2 separate regions of the Homo sapiens genome follow, and region 1 is linked to region 2. Evidence: fine-mapped expression QTL. A gene starts in region 2. The other region holds a variant in brackets. All regions are shown on one strand. Distances are between the middles of the regions.

Evidence for each region. PIP is the estimated chance that this variant, and not a neighbour inherited with it, causes the effect.
Region 1: its variant is the best candidate, but not a certain one, in a credible set for the expression of SKA2 in prefrontal cortex (BrainSeq, PIP 0.83).

What each region holds. Positions count from the first base shown.
Region 1 is chr17:59,126,972-59,134,971 of GRCh38, reverse strand. It overlaps SKA2 (spindle and kinetochore associated complex subunit 2), which reads left to right. Exons shown (of 4, transcript NM_182620.4): 2 at 3,605-3,691. It also overlaps the pseudogene RNU2-58P. Among named protein-coding and RNA genes, the nearest start is that of MIR454, 6.9 kb to the left of the region's middle. The variant A/G (reference allele first, on the strand shown) is at 3,581.
Region 2 is chr17:59,151,434-59,159,939 of GRCh38, reverse strand. It overlaps SKA2 (spindle and kinetochore associated complex subunit 2), which reads left to right and starts at 4,754. Exons shown (of 4, transcript NM_182620.4): 1 at 4,754-4,809. The coding sequence starts at 4,777. It overlaps PRR11 (proline rich 11), which reads right to left and starts at 4,194. Exons shown (of 10, transcript NM_018304.4): 1 at 4,135-4,194. RefSeq lists enhancers at 509-1,708, 4,017-4,066, 4,727-4,966.

The DNA.
Region 1 (8,000 bases), 25 kb after region 2:
TCCCAGCTACTTGGGAGGCTGAAGTGGGAGGATCTGTTGAGCCTGGGAGGTTGGGGCTGTAGTGAGCCGAGTTGTTGCCACTGCACTCCTGCTTGTATGACAGAGTGAGACCCTGTCTCAAAAAAAATAAATGACAAAAATATATATATGAATATAGTCTACATTTGGGAGTTTTGTGTCCCCCAAACTCATCATGTTTTGTGACATATACGTTAGATTATTGTAAAAATCTTTCAAACCTTGGAGGTCTCAGTTGCCAAATTTAGGACAATTTAGGCCTGTAGTCCCAGCTCTCAGGAGGCTGAGGCAGGAGAATTGCTTGAACCCCGGAGGCAGAGGTTGCAGTGAGCCAAGACTGTGCCACTGCACTCTAGCCTGGGCAACAGAACAAGACTCCTCCAAAAAAAAAAAGGAAAGTTACCATTCAAGGAACTACATGAGATTATGCTAAACTTCAAGCAGAACTAAATATCAAGTTAAAAAATATGTAAGTTTAATACTTCGTTTCATAAACATGTTAAGGGTTTCTAGAATAGAGATTCTGTCTTAGGAATCTCTGGAGCCACAAATTCCATAATTTATGGTAAATTAAATGACTAAAACAAGCTTTAAAGACTTGTATTTAAAGTTGTGCTTAAGAATGTTATATAACTCATTGAAAAAAGCTATGGAATTGTGGTCTGTTCAGTAATTAAGACAAACAAAATCAGGTCTTGAGTGCTCACAGCCTTTGTTAACTTTGATTTGCTCTGGCTCCTGGTCTCTCCTCATTCTCTCCATCCACATGTTTTATGGGTTAGTGTACTTTTCTTATTTATAGGAAAAGATAATCCCTAAGTATATCTTAGTATGAGAAATTATGCAAATAGGAATTTCTTAATACACACACAGACACAAACATTAGTATTTTTAAGGAGTTGTAATTATTGATTAATTTAATCGTGGCATCTCATCTGACAAGTATAGAGGATAAATGAAAAGCTTCCACTTTTTGGAAATCATTTTAAACACACTTTGTAATTATGTACCCAACATTAATTTTTCTGGCTTAGAGCAACTCCCTGATGTTAGAGATGGAAATAAGATATTGACCTGGAAAATATGTTTAAAAACAAAAACCTTCTCTTTCTTTTATCTGTACCCTCCCCCCAAGTTTTGGCTATAAAGATAGAATTTTGGTCATTGCAGAGTTTTCCATTCCAATTTAGGTCAATGATAAGAGAAATTATTAGTGATGGAAACTAGTTTATTTCTGAAATTCTGTTTGATGACAGCTTCTGACCTTAGAAGCATTTGAATTTCTGACAGCCATTTTGTCTTACTCTACATTTGAAAGTAGGGTCCTAATAGAACCTTTTATATACTAAAAATAACTGTACATCATTTCTTATTAGACCTGAGAACTGCTTTTAACAGTTTTTCCCCTTCCACTAAGGCTTCAGGATTTTGAGAATCAATCTTTAGTTCAGTGATAAAGTTCATAATAAGAGCAGCACCCTCCCTGCAAACAGCCTCCTATGTTTTGGGATAGGAATAGGAGACCATGCCTGTGGAAATCATGTTTTCCTTTCTGTAGTAAACTCTAAGGACAGTTATATCCCTGATAAACTCGAGGCAATATATGCTTTAAGGTCCTGTAAAAGATGCGGAATTTCATGAAGTTAAGAATAATTCATTGATTATACCGCTTGCAGAAATAAACCACTTTTAGGCTGGACATGGTGGCTCACGTCTGTAATTCCAGCACTTCGGGAGGCTGAGGTGGGAGGACTGCTTCAGCCCAGCATGGGCAACATAATGAGATCCTGTCTCTGTAAAAAATCAAAAATTAGCTGGGTGCCATGGCATGTGCCTGTAGTCCCAGGTGCACTCGGAAGGAGGTAGGAGGATCCCACGAGCCCAGGAGTTTGACACTGCAGTGAGCTATGATGGTGCCACAACACTTCAGCCTGGGCTATAGAGCAAGACCCTGTCTCATAAAAAAGAAAAAGAAAATTCTTTTTAACACTGTCATATATCCATCTCAACTTTGTATATGTATACATCTCTTTTACAAAAAGAGGCCATAACATACTCAAGGCTGTTTTTGTATTTAATGAGTCATAAATATAGTGTCATGTCAAATCTGTCTATACATTATCATTTTAAAAACAAATGACCTTTTGAAAGGTTAAATAGCTGCTCATTACAAATACTACAGAAATAGAGTAAAATGTGAAAGCCCCCCCTTAAGTATTTTTTTGTATATCATCGTTTTCAATAATGGCATGGTATTCCAAATATTGATATTTACTTATTTACTTATTTATGAGATAGAGTCTTGCTCTGTTACCCAGGCAGGAGTGCAGTGGCCAATCTTGGCTCACTGCAACTTCCGCTTCCTCGGTTCAACTGATTCTAGTGCCTCAGCTACCCAAATAGCTGGGACCACAGGCACATGCCACTATCCCCAGCTAATTTTAGTATTTTTAGTAGAGATGGGGTTTTGCCATGTTGGCCAGGCTAGCCTTGAATTCCCGGGCTGAAGTGACCCGCCCGCCTCAGCCTCCCAAAGTGCTGGGATTACAGGGATGAGCCACTGTGCCTGGCCCCAAATACTTATTTTTTTTTTTGTGGAGACGGAGTTTCATTCTTGTCGCCCAGGCTGGAGTGCAATGGTGCAATCTTGGCTTACTGCAGCCTCCACCTCCGGGGTTCAAGCGATTCTCCTGCCTCAGCCTCCCGAGTAAGTGGGATTACAGGCTTCTGCCACCATGCACAGCTAATTTTTGTATTTTTGGTAGAGATGAGGTTTCACCATGTTAGCCAGGCTGGTCTCAAACTCCTGACCTCAGGTGATCCACCTGCCTTGGCCTCCCAAAGTGCTGGGATTACAGGTGTGAACCACTGTGCCCGGCCAATACTGATATTTTTAAATGTAACTTTTCACTTTAATTCAGGCATCCTATATCCATAATGGCCTCAGGGTGGTAGTTCTCCCCTTTTTTCTTCCTTTGAGGTTTACTACAGATCAAGTTCCCATGCTGGCACCCAGGTTCAGTAAATTGGGGTTATTCAGACTGTTACTCCCATATCATATGTAGCTTTTCTTGTGAAATTTGTGACTCTTTAAGCCCTCTTAATTTTAGTGGCACATAGTTGTAGCTCTTTGATCAATGGGATTGCAAATAAAGGTAACAATATGAGTATTCCTGAAATAAATTTGTTCTGTGTTTTAAATTGAAAGTGTATTTTCTGCCAGAGGTAGAAAAACACTGCCTAACTGATGAGAGTATCTGTGACCCTAGGAAATTATTGACGTCATTATTAGTTTTTTGTATTAATATCTGACAATGGCTACTCAGTATCTTGATTTTGGCTCAAAATGTAAGAGAGAGGCATAGAGAAATGAATGACTTTAAAATGTTAACTACTTTTTAAATTTTTCATAGAGCATAGTTATTATGGATAATGGATATTTTATATACTTTTTATTTCCACATTTTCAAATGAGTATGTATCACTTATTGAAATACTAACAAATGTAAAGAGAAAAAAAGAATAAAGTATCATGTTTACTATTAGTCTTTTGGTTTACACA[A/G]TAATGATTTGTGCTGATCTTTAGTTCCAGAAAGCTGAGTCTGATCTGGATTACATTCAATACAGGCTGGAATATGAAATCAAGACTAATCATCCTGATTCAGCAAGTGAGGTAATCTCCGAAATAAATAAGCTTAAAAAAAATCAGCCTTAACTGAATACTTTAGAATTTTCTGATAGCATTCCTAATAGTAATAGATCATAAGAATTATATTATTAAGTTTATAGAATCTTAAAATCTTGCATTGTGTTGGAAGTTTGGTTATAGCACACTGGAGAAATAGTACCAATAGTCCGTGAAATTTGTGGCTACTTTTTTTCCCCTAACCTTTAAAAAATAATCATTGAGTTCAGAGGTACAAGCCACTGTGGCAGCCTCTGAAATTCCAAGAGAGAATATAGCTACCTCTAGGGCAGTTGTTCTTCAGTAAGTTTGAGGGGAGAAGTCCTGGCAGTCAGCATATTCTCTGAGGAAGGTAATGATACACTATTAGATTTTTTACTTATATTTTATGAATAGTGATTTCTAGATAAAGCTATCTATTTAATTACTCTAAGTTTAGGTTGATTAGAAACATTAACTCTGCTTTATGTCATAAAATCATTAAGTGTAAGTATACATACATGTTCATGGGGGTGAAAGTAAATAATCTCCAAGCATCGTCTGTTAACATTAACACTAAAATCACTAATTCAATAATGTTTATCTTTTTTTCCCCAAAGCCCAGGTATCAGGCTTAATTAATATTTATCTTTTTTTTTTTTTGAGACGGATCACTCTGTCGTCCAGGCTGGAGTGCAGTGGTGCAATCTCAGCTCACCATAACCTCCACTTCCTGGGTTCAAGCGATTCTCTTGCCTCAGTCTCCCAAGTAGCTGGGATTACAGGCGTGCGCCACAATGCCCAGCTAATTTTTTTTTTTTTTTTTTTTTTTGTATTTTTAGTAGAGACGGAGTTTCACTATGTTGGCCAGGCTGGTCTTGAGCTCCTGACCTCAAGTGATCTGCCTACCTCAGCCTCTCAAGGTGTTGGGATTACAGGCATGAGCCACCACGTGCGACCAATATTTGTCTTTGATAGCACTTACCAGCAGACAAGAAACAGTGCATTTTACAGTTAAAAAAAAATTCCATACAATTAAAAAAATTTTTTTTTGGATTGGGTAGAAGTATAAGTTAAACTAACATTTTATAGAAAATTGGGAAAATTTCACGAATGTTCAGTTTTTACTGTTTATTTCATGGAATGCTAGAATTCTATGGGAGTGTAGTTTGTACTGTTCTAGCTCCCTATTCTTTTCTTTCTTTCCTTTCTCTTTTTTCTTCCCTTTTTTCTTTCTCTCTCTCCCCCCCGCCTCTTTCTCTCTTCCTCCCTCCCTCTCTTTTTCTCTCTTCCTTCCCTTCCCCTTACCCTCCCTTCCTCCCTTCCTTCCTTCCCTCCTTCCCTCTTTCTCTCCTTCCTTCCTTCCTTCCCTCCCTCCCTCCCTCCCTCTTTTCCTTCCTCCCATCCTTCTTCTCCCTCCCTTTCCTCCCTTCCCTTCCTTTCCCTTCCTTCTGTTATCCAGGCTGGAGTTCAGGGGTGTGATCTTGGGTCACTGCAGCCTCCACCTCCCAGGTTCAAGGGATTCTCCCGCCTCAGCCTCCCGAGTAGCTGGGATTACAGGCGCAGGCTACCATGCTCGGCTAATTTTTGTATTTTTTAGTAGAGATGGGGTTTCACCATGTTAGGCTGGTCTCAAACTCCTGACCTCAAGTGATCCACCCGCCTCAGCCTCCTAAAGTGCTGGGATTAGTCGTGAGCCACCACACCTGGCCCTTTCCTTCCTTTTCTTCCTTTCTTTCCTCACTTCCCTTCCATTCCTTCATTCCTTCTCTTTCCTTCCCCTGCCTTCCCTTCCTTCCTTTCTTTCTTTTGTCTTAAAGATTCCTGTGATATTTCTTCTCAGCCTTTTGGCTAAGATCAAGTGTAGTATCTGTTTTTATCAGTTTAAAGACCGTGTGTGTGTGTGTGTGTGTGTGTGTGTGTGTGTGTGTATGTGTGTTTAAGATAGGGTCTCACTCTGTCACCCAGGCTGGAGTGCGGTAACAAAATCTCAGCTCACTTCAGCCTTGACTTCCTGGGCTCAAGCAATCCTCCCACCTCAGTCCGCCAAGTGCCTGGAACTATAGGCACACACCACCACACCCAGCTAATTTTTGTATTTTTAGTGGAGATGGGATTTTAACATGTTGCCTAGGTTGGTTTTGAACTCCTGGACTCAAGCGATCTACCTGCCTTGGCCTCCCAAAGTGCTGGGATTATAGGCGTGCGCCACCACGCCTGACCTAGTCAGTATCTTTCAAGTACTGTTTTGAAAGACATTGACGTGTAGTGCTCCCATTTTTCCTCTGACTTCCATCTCTCATCTTTGTTCCACCTGTGGGTATTTTTTTTCCTGCAACTTTTTAAAAAAGCAGCTTTATTGAGCTATAATTCATATACCATTAAATTCACCCCTTTAAAGTATATAATTAAGTGGCTTTTAGTATTCATGGTTTTGTAGCCATTGCCACAATAACATTTTCATCACCTCAGAAAGAAACCCCATACCCATGAGTAGCTACTCCCTACCACCCTTCCCTGCTATCCTGCAAGCTCCCAAAGACGAATCTACTTTCTGTCTCCACAGATTTGTTGTCTGAACATTTCAGATAAATAGAATCATATAATATATGACCTTTCATGTCTAACTTTTTCACTTAGGATGTTTCTTTTTTTTTTTTTTTTGAGACCGAGTCTCGCTCTGTCACCCAGGCTGGAGTGAAGTGGCACTATCTCTGCTCCCTGCAACCTCCGCCTTCCGAGTTCAAGCAACTCTCCTGCCTCAACTTCCTGAGTAGCTGGGACTACTGGTGTGTGCCACCACATCTGGCTAATTTTTGTATTTTTTAGTAGAGACAGGGTTTTGCCATGTTGGCCAGGCTGGTCTTGAACTCCTGACGTCAGGTGATCCACCCTCCTCGGCCTCCCAAAGTGCTGGGATTGCAGGCATGAGCCACTGCACCTGGCCCACTTAGGATGTTTCTAAGTTTCATCCATGTTGTAGCGTCAATCAGTACTTCATTTGCTTTTACTGCTGAGTAATACTCCACTGTATGGCTATACTCCATCTTCTTTTCTCTCTCTTTTTTTTTTTCTGAGATGGAGTCTTGCTCTGTCCCCTAGGCTGGAGTGCAGTGGTGCAATCTCAGCTCACTGCAACCTCCGCCTCCTGGGTTCAAGCGATTCTCCTGCCTCAGCCTCCTGAGTAGCTAGGAGTACAGGTGCGTGCCACCACACCAGCTGATTTTTGTATTTTCAGTAGAGACAGGGTTTCACCATGTTGGCCAGGCTGGTCTCAAACTCCTGACCTCATGATCCACCCACCTCGGCCTCCCAAAGTGCTGGGATTACAGGTGTGAGCCACCGTGCCCGGCCCATACTCCATTTTCTTATCCAGTCATCAGTTGATGGTGGTCATTTGTGTTGTTTCCACCTTTTGGCTGCTATGAACATACATTTACAAGTTGTTGTGTGGACATGTGTTTTCATTTCTCTCGAGTATATACCTTGGAGTAGAATTGCTGGCCATATGATAACTCAGGTTTAATATTTTAAGGAACTACCAAACTGTTTTCCAAGGCATCTAAAGCATTTTACATTCTCAGTTTAAAAAAAAAAATTGTGGGCTGGGTGTGGTGGCTCATGCCTGTAATCCCAGCACTTTGGGAAACTGAGGCAGGCTGATCATCTGATGTCAGGAGTTTAAGACCAGCCTGGCTAACATGATGAAACCCGTCTCTACTAAAAATACAAAATTAGCCGGGCGTGGTGGCACGAGCCTGTAACCCCAGCTACTTGGGAGGCTGAGATAGGAGAATTGCTTGAACCCAGGAGGTGAAGGTTGCAGTGAGTCCAGATTGCGCCATTGAACTCCAGCCTGGGCGACAGATCAAGACTGTCTCAAAAGAAAAGAAAAGAAAAGAAATTGTAGTAAAATGTAAATAACAACATTTACCATTTTAATATGGTCCAGGCTGAACTCCAATTCCTAGGTTTATCCTCTGGCCTCAATATCCTTAGCAGCTGGGATTACAGGCACGTGTCCTTATACCTGATAGCCATCTTAATCTTTTTTAAGTGAACAGTTCACTGGCATTAACTACATTCACATTATTGTACAATATCACCATCATCAATCTCCAGAAGGTTTTCATCTCCCCACATTGTAACTGTATATCCATTAAACAATAACTCCACGTTCCTTTCTTCCACTCCTAGCAGCCACCATTCTACTTTCTGTCTCTATCAATTTGACTACTCTAGGGACTCATATAAGTAGAATCATATAATATTTGTCTTTTTGTGACTCATGTATGTCACTTATAATGTTCTCAAGATT
Region 2 (8,506 bases):
ACAGGTATACAATAGTGTATGGGTTATGATGGGATATGTATATGATATTAATGGAGAAATAAAGCAAGGGTACATAATTCTCCCATAAGGGTTGAGGTTTTTGGAAAAGGTTTTGCCTAAGCTGAGCTTTGATGAAGGGGCTAGGTTAAGGTGGGCCTAGGGAGGACTCATCCCATCAGAGGGAATAACATGGAAACATTTCAGAGAAAGGTATGTCAGGGGATTCAGACAAGACTCAGTGTGACTAAAGCATATCCTGCAACGTAAAGTTTTGTCAGGGGGCAATGAGTGATGAAGCTGGAGGGTGGATAAGGACCAAGACATCAGAAACAATAATGGATTTTAAGCAGATAATTGTCATGCTCGTATTTCTTCTTTAGAAAGAATGGTTTGGCAGCATCGTGGAAATTGGATTTATGGGACCATGACTGAAGACAAAGAGACCACTTACAAACCTACTGCAACTGTCTAGGGGATGAGGACCTGATTATAGGAGCGACAGTAGGGTATCTAAATACATCTAACTGCTTATGTTCTATGTTCAAAGTCAGAAGTTCAGGGGAAAGACACTAGAGAAATACTGCACTCATAAGTGTATAGGTAGCTTGAGAAAATAACAACACTAGAAATGAGTGAAATTACCCAGAGAAATATGTGGAGTGAAAAGATCTATGAGCTGATTACCAAACTTTGAGAAACACCATGTATAAGGAGTGGGTAGAGAAAGAACTAGAAAAGGCATGGCCAGGAAGGTGAAAAGAATGCAGAGACAATGGAGCTCCTATTGGAGTAGAGGGTTATAAAAAAAGAGGGTGTGGGAGGCTGGGTGCGGTGGCTCACACCTGTAATCCCAGCACTTTGGGAGACTGAGGTGGGTGGATCACCTGAGGTCAGGAGTTCGAGACCAGCCTGACCAACAGGGTGAAACCCTGTCTCTACTGAAAATAGAAAAATTAGCCAGGTGTGGTGGAGTGTGCTGTAATCCCAGCTACGCGGGAGGCTGAGGCATTAGAATCACTTGAATCTAGGAGGTGGAGGTTGCAGTGAGCCAAGATCACGCCACTGCACTGGGTGCACACCACACCTGGGTGTGGGCCAATGTGAGTATGAATCAGAAATATTTCTCTGATTAATTTACCCTGTCTCTTCTCCTTACCATCCCCCTCCGTTCTGTCCTCTAACTTCAGTTGCCTTCACTTTTTTCATTTTTGTCTTTCACTATTGTCTATTTTCCTTTACTGTTTTTACTTAGAAAAATTTCAAGGCTCCAGGAAATAAAAAATTTACAATAGTATAATAAGCACTCATATACAGTTCACCTAGATTTACCAATTGTCAATTGCCGTCTTTGTACACACACTCTTTCTGTACGTATGTACAAATATATACATACATAAATTTTTTTAGTTTTGGATTGAATAGATTTAGTTGCAGACATCATGATACTTTACTCTTAGATACTTTAGCTTTTGTTTTCTAACATAAACATGGAAATTTTCCAACAAAACCACAATCAGTCAGGAAATTTAACCTTGTTATGAAATGATCTAATAAACAGCCCATATTCGGATTGCCCCAATTGTCTCAATATCCCTTATAGCTTCTCCCACCCTGGTTCCACATGCATTTAGCAGTAGTGTCTCTTTAGTACCCTTTAATTCATAACAATTCTCCAGCTTTTTTATTTATGTATTTGCTTCTTCATATTTATAATTTTGAAGAGTCCAAGTCAGTCGTTTTGGAGAATGTTTCTTAGTTTGGGTTTGCTGAGTGTTCCTTCAATGATTCTCCTGCCTTCAGTCTTTCTCCTTGCCAGTTCATTTTCCATACCAGAACTGATACTTTAAAACAAAATGAGATCTAGATATTCCCTTGCTTAAAAGTATTTGAAGGTTCCTTTACTCACAAAATTAAATTCCTTAGCATGCCTTTCAAAACTTTTCACAACTTAGCTCTAATGGCCCTTTGCCATAGTCTCTTCTAGTGACTAGCGGTTTGTACTTCCAGGTATACTAAACACCAAATACTTTCTGTTTCTTTCTATCAGCCTTTCCTTCTGTTTAGAGTATCCTCTTCCAAGTCAACTTATACCTAGCCTTCAAGATTCTGTTATTTTATCTTATAGATATTAGTTGAGTGCTTATAATCCACCAAGTACTATGCTAGGTGCTGGCATACAATCCTGAACAACACCAACATAGTCTTTGTCCTTCTAGAATTTTTTTTTTTTTGGGGGGGTGGACAGAGTCTCGCTCTGTCACCCGGGCTGGAGTGCAGTGGTGTGATCTCAGCTCAATGCCACCTCCACCTCCTGGGTTCAAGCGATTATCCTGCTTCAGCCTCTTGAGCACCTGGGATTATAGGGGCGTGCCACCACACCCGGATAATTTTTGTATTTTTAGTAGAGATGGGATTTTGCCATGTTGGCCAGGCTGGTCTTGAACTCCTTACCTCAAGTGATCCGCCCGCTTCATCCTCCCAGAGTGCTGGGATTACAGGTGTGAGGCACCATGCCCAGCCTCCTTACAGAATTTATACTGGCTGAAATGTCATCTCTTTTGCACTTCTATAGCACTTTATACACATCTTTATTATAAAATGTATTACATTTCATTGTAATTTTTGCTTGTATGTTTGTCATCCTGCTGGACTGTGAGCTTTTCAAGGGTGTGACAAATTTCATTCATCTTTGTTTTCCCAGCATCTAGAATACAGCAGGAGCTAAATAATGTTTCATTCAATAAAGAATGAAAAGAAGCATTCCTGCTAAGTGTTAGCTAGCAAGTGTTATTTTAGTTAAGGAATATATTCTAATATTGTCAAATTCTCTTGGTTAGGGAGGTTTTTACTTCTTCATATCATACCACATCTTCATATGGCTAAAAGATGGGTCTAAAGCTATTTTCCAATAGGAAGATGCAATAAATAATACAGTAAGAATTACAGTCTTTTGCAGGAGTTGGCGCTGCTGCTTCTGTGAAAACTCCACCCAATGATATGAAAAGTTCTTTGCGGCCGAGCGTGGTGGCTCACGCCTGTAATCCCAGCACTTTGGGAGGCTGAGGCTGGTGGATCACGAGGTCAGGAAATCGAGACCATCCTGGCCAAGAGGGTGAAACCCCGTCTCTACTAAAAATACAAAAATTAGCCGGGCGTGCTGGCGTGCGCCTGTACTCCCAGCTACTCAGGAGGCTGAGGTTGTAGTGGGCCGAGATTGTGCCACTGTACTCCAGCCTAGGCGACAGAGCGAGACTCCGTCACAAAAAAAGAAAAAAAAAAAAAAGAAAGAAAGAGAAGAAAAGTTCTTTGTTCTGGGGTACTTTCAAAGCTGTAGCAGCAACGGAAATGACTGTTGCATTTCATTGCCATCTTCCTAAAACACATTTTTATGGAAGTCTCTTGCGCTCCTCCACAAATAGCCTTCAATTACTTAATTTCCATTAGCAGTCCAATTGATTCTTCTTGAACACCCATAGCACTATTTCTGGGTACTTGCTTTTTTTAAATTTTATGTTTTATGCTTTTTTTTTTTTAAGCATTGCTGTTTTTGTTCTGTCTTGTTTTTCCAAAGAGACTGCAGCTCCCTAAAGTCTCATCCCGCACAGTATTAGGCACTCAGTAAACAGGACACGCATTTAAAATTGACACTCTAACAGCATGCCAGACAATATCGAGTAACATAGTAATATTCCCAGTCAAGAAATGTACCAACTTAAACTTTAATGTGCATAGAAATCACTCAGGGAAATCTTGTTAAAATGTATATTCTGATTTAGTAAATTTGGGTGGAGTCCGATAATTTGCATTTGTAACAAGCAAACAAGAGATGCGGATGCCGCTGATCTGTGGACTTGCATTGAGCAGCAAATATGTAAAGAAATGTTCAAAAGGAAGGCAGATGCTTTGCTCCAAAACGTATCTTGCGAAGTGTTAATTAAATAGAAGTATGGTTAAGATGAAGCCAGGCCGAGCACTTCTTCCCCAGCCCCAAACCTCCCCTTCCTCCTTTCCATTTCCCCTTCGTGTCCAGCCAAAGTCCCCACCTCCCTAAACCATAAAAACACAAGCAGCAACAGGCCCAGCTACTCAAGACGCGAGCTCAGATAACAAAGAAATAATCGTTCCTGCACTTACTAGTCTAAGAGCCGGGGGAGTCGATGGAGTCCGGGCTGTGGCCTCTCCCACGCCATAAAGAAAAATTCAAAATTAAATCCTTGTCAGGGAGAGGCCAATCGTAGACACGGTCTCTGCACGATTCGCTCTTCGGATGGTGTAGGAGCACAGCCCGGCTTGTGATTGGCTGAGATAGCACAGAGCTCCAGCCAATCAGAGCTGAGGCGCTTCTGGTATGAATAAGGAGAAGGCGGGAGAGAAGGGGAAGGAAAGCCGGAGGGGAAAGAAGGTGTGTTACGTCCCCTCTGCTGTCGGTGGAAGCTCTGGTGTGATTGGTTGGCTCTTCTTCCAATTGCACCAATCTCAAGCTCTTCTCTGCAGAGCCCTAACTACAAAATTGAAAGTAGAGAGGAGGGGGCAGCCAATGGAAAAAAAAATTTGCACAGCAGCCAATCCTCCTGCGGCGTTTTGTGCCTTTGCCCAACAGGAAAATGTGTCTCATGCAGAGGGGCGTTACCCAGTCTCCAATGGGCGGGAGCCGGTGGAACGGAGGAGCCAATGAGTGCGAGATGTTGAGTGACAGCTGTCCAATGGAGGCCCTCCGTGCTAGTACGGCTTGCGGCTTAAGCGCCGCCGCGGTCTGCGGAATGTCAACTATTCAACATGGAGGCGGAGGTCGATAAGCTGGAACTGATGGTGAGTGCAAAGTGAAGGAGATCTACTGGGTAGTTTATTTTTCCCCCATGGCCTCGGAGGTGGGGCACAATTTGGAGTCGCCGGAAACTCCGGGCGGCGGAGGCTGGACCAGAGTCGAGTTCCCTCCTCCTGCACCAAAGGGAGCCGCCACCGTCTGGTGTCTAAACCGCCTCGGGTAAGGGGTTACATCCGGGAAACTCGTCAGGGAAATGGCGGGAGATGCTGAGGGTGCGGGGCCTTTGGAATTCCTTGTTCCTTGCCCTCACCTTTACACCCCTTACGAAACTGCGCCGGGTGCAGACCGCATTCTGTGTTTGTACCAAAAAAGATGTGAATGGAACGGTCCCTAAGCGTCCCAAGAAGGGAGAGGTGGTTCACACTCCAAGAAAGGGGAACGGAGGGTGGGGTGGGGAATAAACTGACGGGGGCGAGGAGAAATCCCTGTAGGGCCAACCCGCTCACGTTCTAAAAGGCGGGCCGAGAAAGTCTGAGAAAGGATGCTAGACTTGTATGCACAACTTCCTAACGGCCAAGGAACCCGTTTCTGTTTGATCCGGAGGTGGCAAACCGTGGGTGAGGGAAGAGGTGTGAGCGAAGGGGATCGTAACCACGAGCTCCGCTCCCGGAGCGCGGGCGGGATTGAGACAGGAAAGGCATCCTGCTCTGGAGTTGTGCACTTTCATTCATCTGTGAAAGTAGAAAACGGGGGCGAAGAATTGGAAAGCACTCCCGTTGTTGCTGGCGTGTTTGGCCTGCTCGGGGGGCGCCCAGCTGGGGGGCTGTCCTAGTTTTCTTTAAGGATCCGTCCCTCACTTGTTCTCTTTATTCCCTCCCTCCCATCCTTAGATTACCAGCTTGATCGCCCGCGCTTTTTTCCTCTTAGTGTCCTTGTTCTGTCTTCAGCCCTTTTCGTTCAGCATTATCTTTTTTTTCTTTTCTTTTCTTTTTTTTTTTTTTTCCCAGGTTGGGCTGCTTTCCTTAAAAACCTGGACTTTGGAGGAAGCGCCTGCCACTGAGCTCCTGTCTTTTTTTGTTTGTTTGCTTGTCTGTTAAATACGATTGGCCGGGCGCGGTGGCTCACGCCTGTAATCCCGGCACTTTGGGAGGCCGAGGCGGGCGGATCAAGAGGTCAAGACATTGAGACTACCCTGGCCAACATGGTGAAACTCCGTCTATACTAAAAATAAAAAAATTAGCCGGGTGTGATGGCACGCGCCTGTAGTCCCAGCTACTCGGGAGGCTGAGGCAGGAGGATCGCTTCAACCTGGGAGACGGAGGTTGCAGTGAGCCGAGATCGCGTCACTGTACTCCGGCCTTGCGACAGAGACAACGTCTCAAAAAAAAAAAAGATTAAGTTTTAAAAAAGTAAAAGACTTCTTTCTTCGTTTGTAATCCGTCCCTCCTTCCCACGCCATTCCCTGGCATTACTGCTTAGGTATCCTTTGTGCCTGCCCTGCTTTCTTCAAGCTGAATCTTGGGTCTCTAACTTCTTCCTTGGAAAGGATGGGTGGTGATCCTGGAAGAAACCTCACCCACCCCCCATTCCCACCCCAGAAAAAGTGAGGCCTTGATATATCTTATTTTCTTCTGTTGTGCTAATGAATTGGAGTGCCTCTCATATACAAATTTAATTTGAAGGCTTTCAATTACTTTTAGCATTTTGTGTTTAAATTTTCTTTGTGCAGTGTGTGTGGGGTTGGAGAAGTGTAGGGAGAAATGGGAGGGAAGAAGGAAGAATTTCCTGCAGATTTTCAAACCTGTAATAATGAACTTTTAGTTTTAAGTTTTATTATCATTTAAAAAAAACAAAATGTTAAGCATTGTAATTTGATTCTGTCAACAGGCTTAAATGTTAAGACTATCTTGCCCTTCTCCCATTCTGAATTCCTCCCTACTGATATAGATATTTCTGCTTAAATTCATAATTCATTTCTGCTAAATGATGCTAATTCTGCTTTTAACAGGTTGTTTGCTTCTCAAATTGGCTGTTTCTAATTTTTAAACTTCGTCTGGCTTTTACAGTAGAGTCAGTATTCTCACAGGACTTCTTTAGATTGAACAAATTCTCTTTTAAGTGAACAATGATGAAGTAAACATTTTGAAAAAGTAGGTTTTAGAAAATTATAAGGTAGCCAGACATTTAAACTTTTAGGTATTGTTTGAATGATGGGGTAGTATTTAAATTCTTTTTGAAGACAGGAAAAAAAGAAATGAGGTTTTTTTCCTTTCTTACATCCTTGCAAGTAAATTAGTGGTAGCTTTTTTTTTTTTCCTTTCAGGTTATTAGTTTGTTTCCATAATTATTAGGGTTTAGAAATGAATTTTTATCATGGCTCTAATTATTACTGCTTTGTGTTGACTAGATAATAAAAGACAGTGCATCTCATCTTCAGATTTACCATGTGCTTCTAGAAAAAAATGTTATACTTGTGGACCAGTTTATTTTATAAGATTTTAAGAGTAAATGATTCCTGTGCTATCTTCTGATTTTTGGTTTTACATCAGTTAAATAAAGGATTTGTCAAGGTAAAAGGAAATGCATAATATTTAATTTGAAAAGAAAGTGTTTATCCTAATTTTGTTAATACCTTAAATTTTTTAAATATTTTTCTTGTTTGTAATAACTTCCAATTCAGAAAGTTAAACACTTATCTTTTAAACAGTTGTCTTTAAAACCTGAAACTTGGCTACCAGCGTTAAATATTCTAATATTTTAGTTATGTGGCCCAGGATTTGACACCAAGACACTTATATTTCAGCTGTCCTTTGTATGAGCCCATTTCCTTAGTAGGCTCAATCCGACTAAGTAGTTGAATTGGACCGTTTAAAGGGAGGTTGGTGAAAATAATGAAAATATATTTTTGCATCAATCAACATTACTAATGGGGGAATAAGCTTATTGTAGGGCAATCTTTGTTCTCTGACTTTTTCCCCTTCACTTAATGATGGGGTGGTATTTGTTTAGCTTTGTTCTTTCGTGGTACTACTAGTGACTGTACACAAAAGGTAATGCAGTGTGATACTATGATACTATTTCTGTTTCTGGGTTTACATCTGACTTCTGATTGGGTTCTTATCCGTTAAAAAAGTTAAAATGTCAATTAGCTTGGAACTAAGGAAACTTGTTACTTAAATCTCAGTCCCACCTCCCCCCATCATTATTTTCTCTTTGACATTTCTAAGTTTGAAGGAAATGGAGATGCTTTCTGCCTCTATTTAAGATTTCAGGAGTTAACTGAAATTTTAAAATCCCCTTGGATAGTATTCAGTTAGATAGGGTTAATGTTCTGTTTAGAGCACATTGATTCCCTTCTGTTGTTATGACAGCCCTTAGTAAACTCAAGATAAAAAGCTGTAAGATGGTAAGTGCTTTTGTGTTTTCTTTGTTTAGTGGTTTAGATTCCAGAGTGATAGATTGAGTATGTAGAGATTGAGAAACTTATTATTTTACTTTTCATTTGTTTTCTTTGATACTTTTATTCAAAGGGCTTGTTTTACATGGCGTTTAATCAGTAAATTGCCTTGAAGAAGGAGCTAACCAACATCTCTGCAGAGAACAAAAATATTTTTCACAACTTTGCCTTAGTAGTAATTATAACTGGTTTTGTTAATACCAATCCTAAAGTATTAACAATACCCATTCTAATTACTATTAAGGCTTAGGGCATATTTACAAAATTCCTTTCTACATCTATGC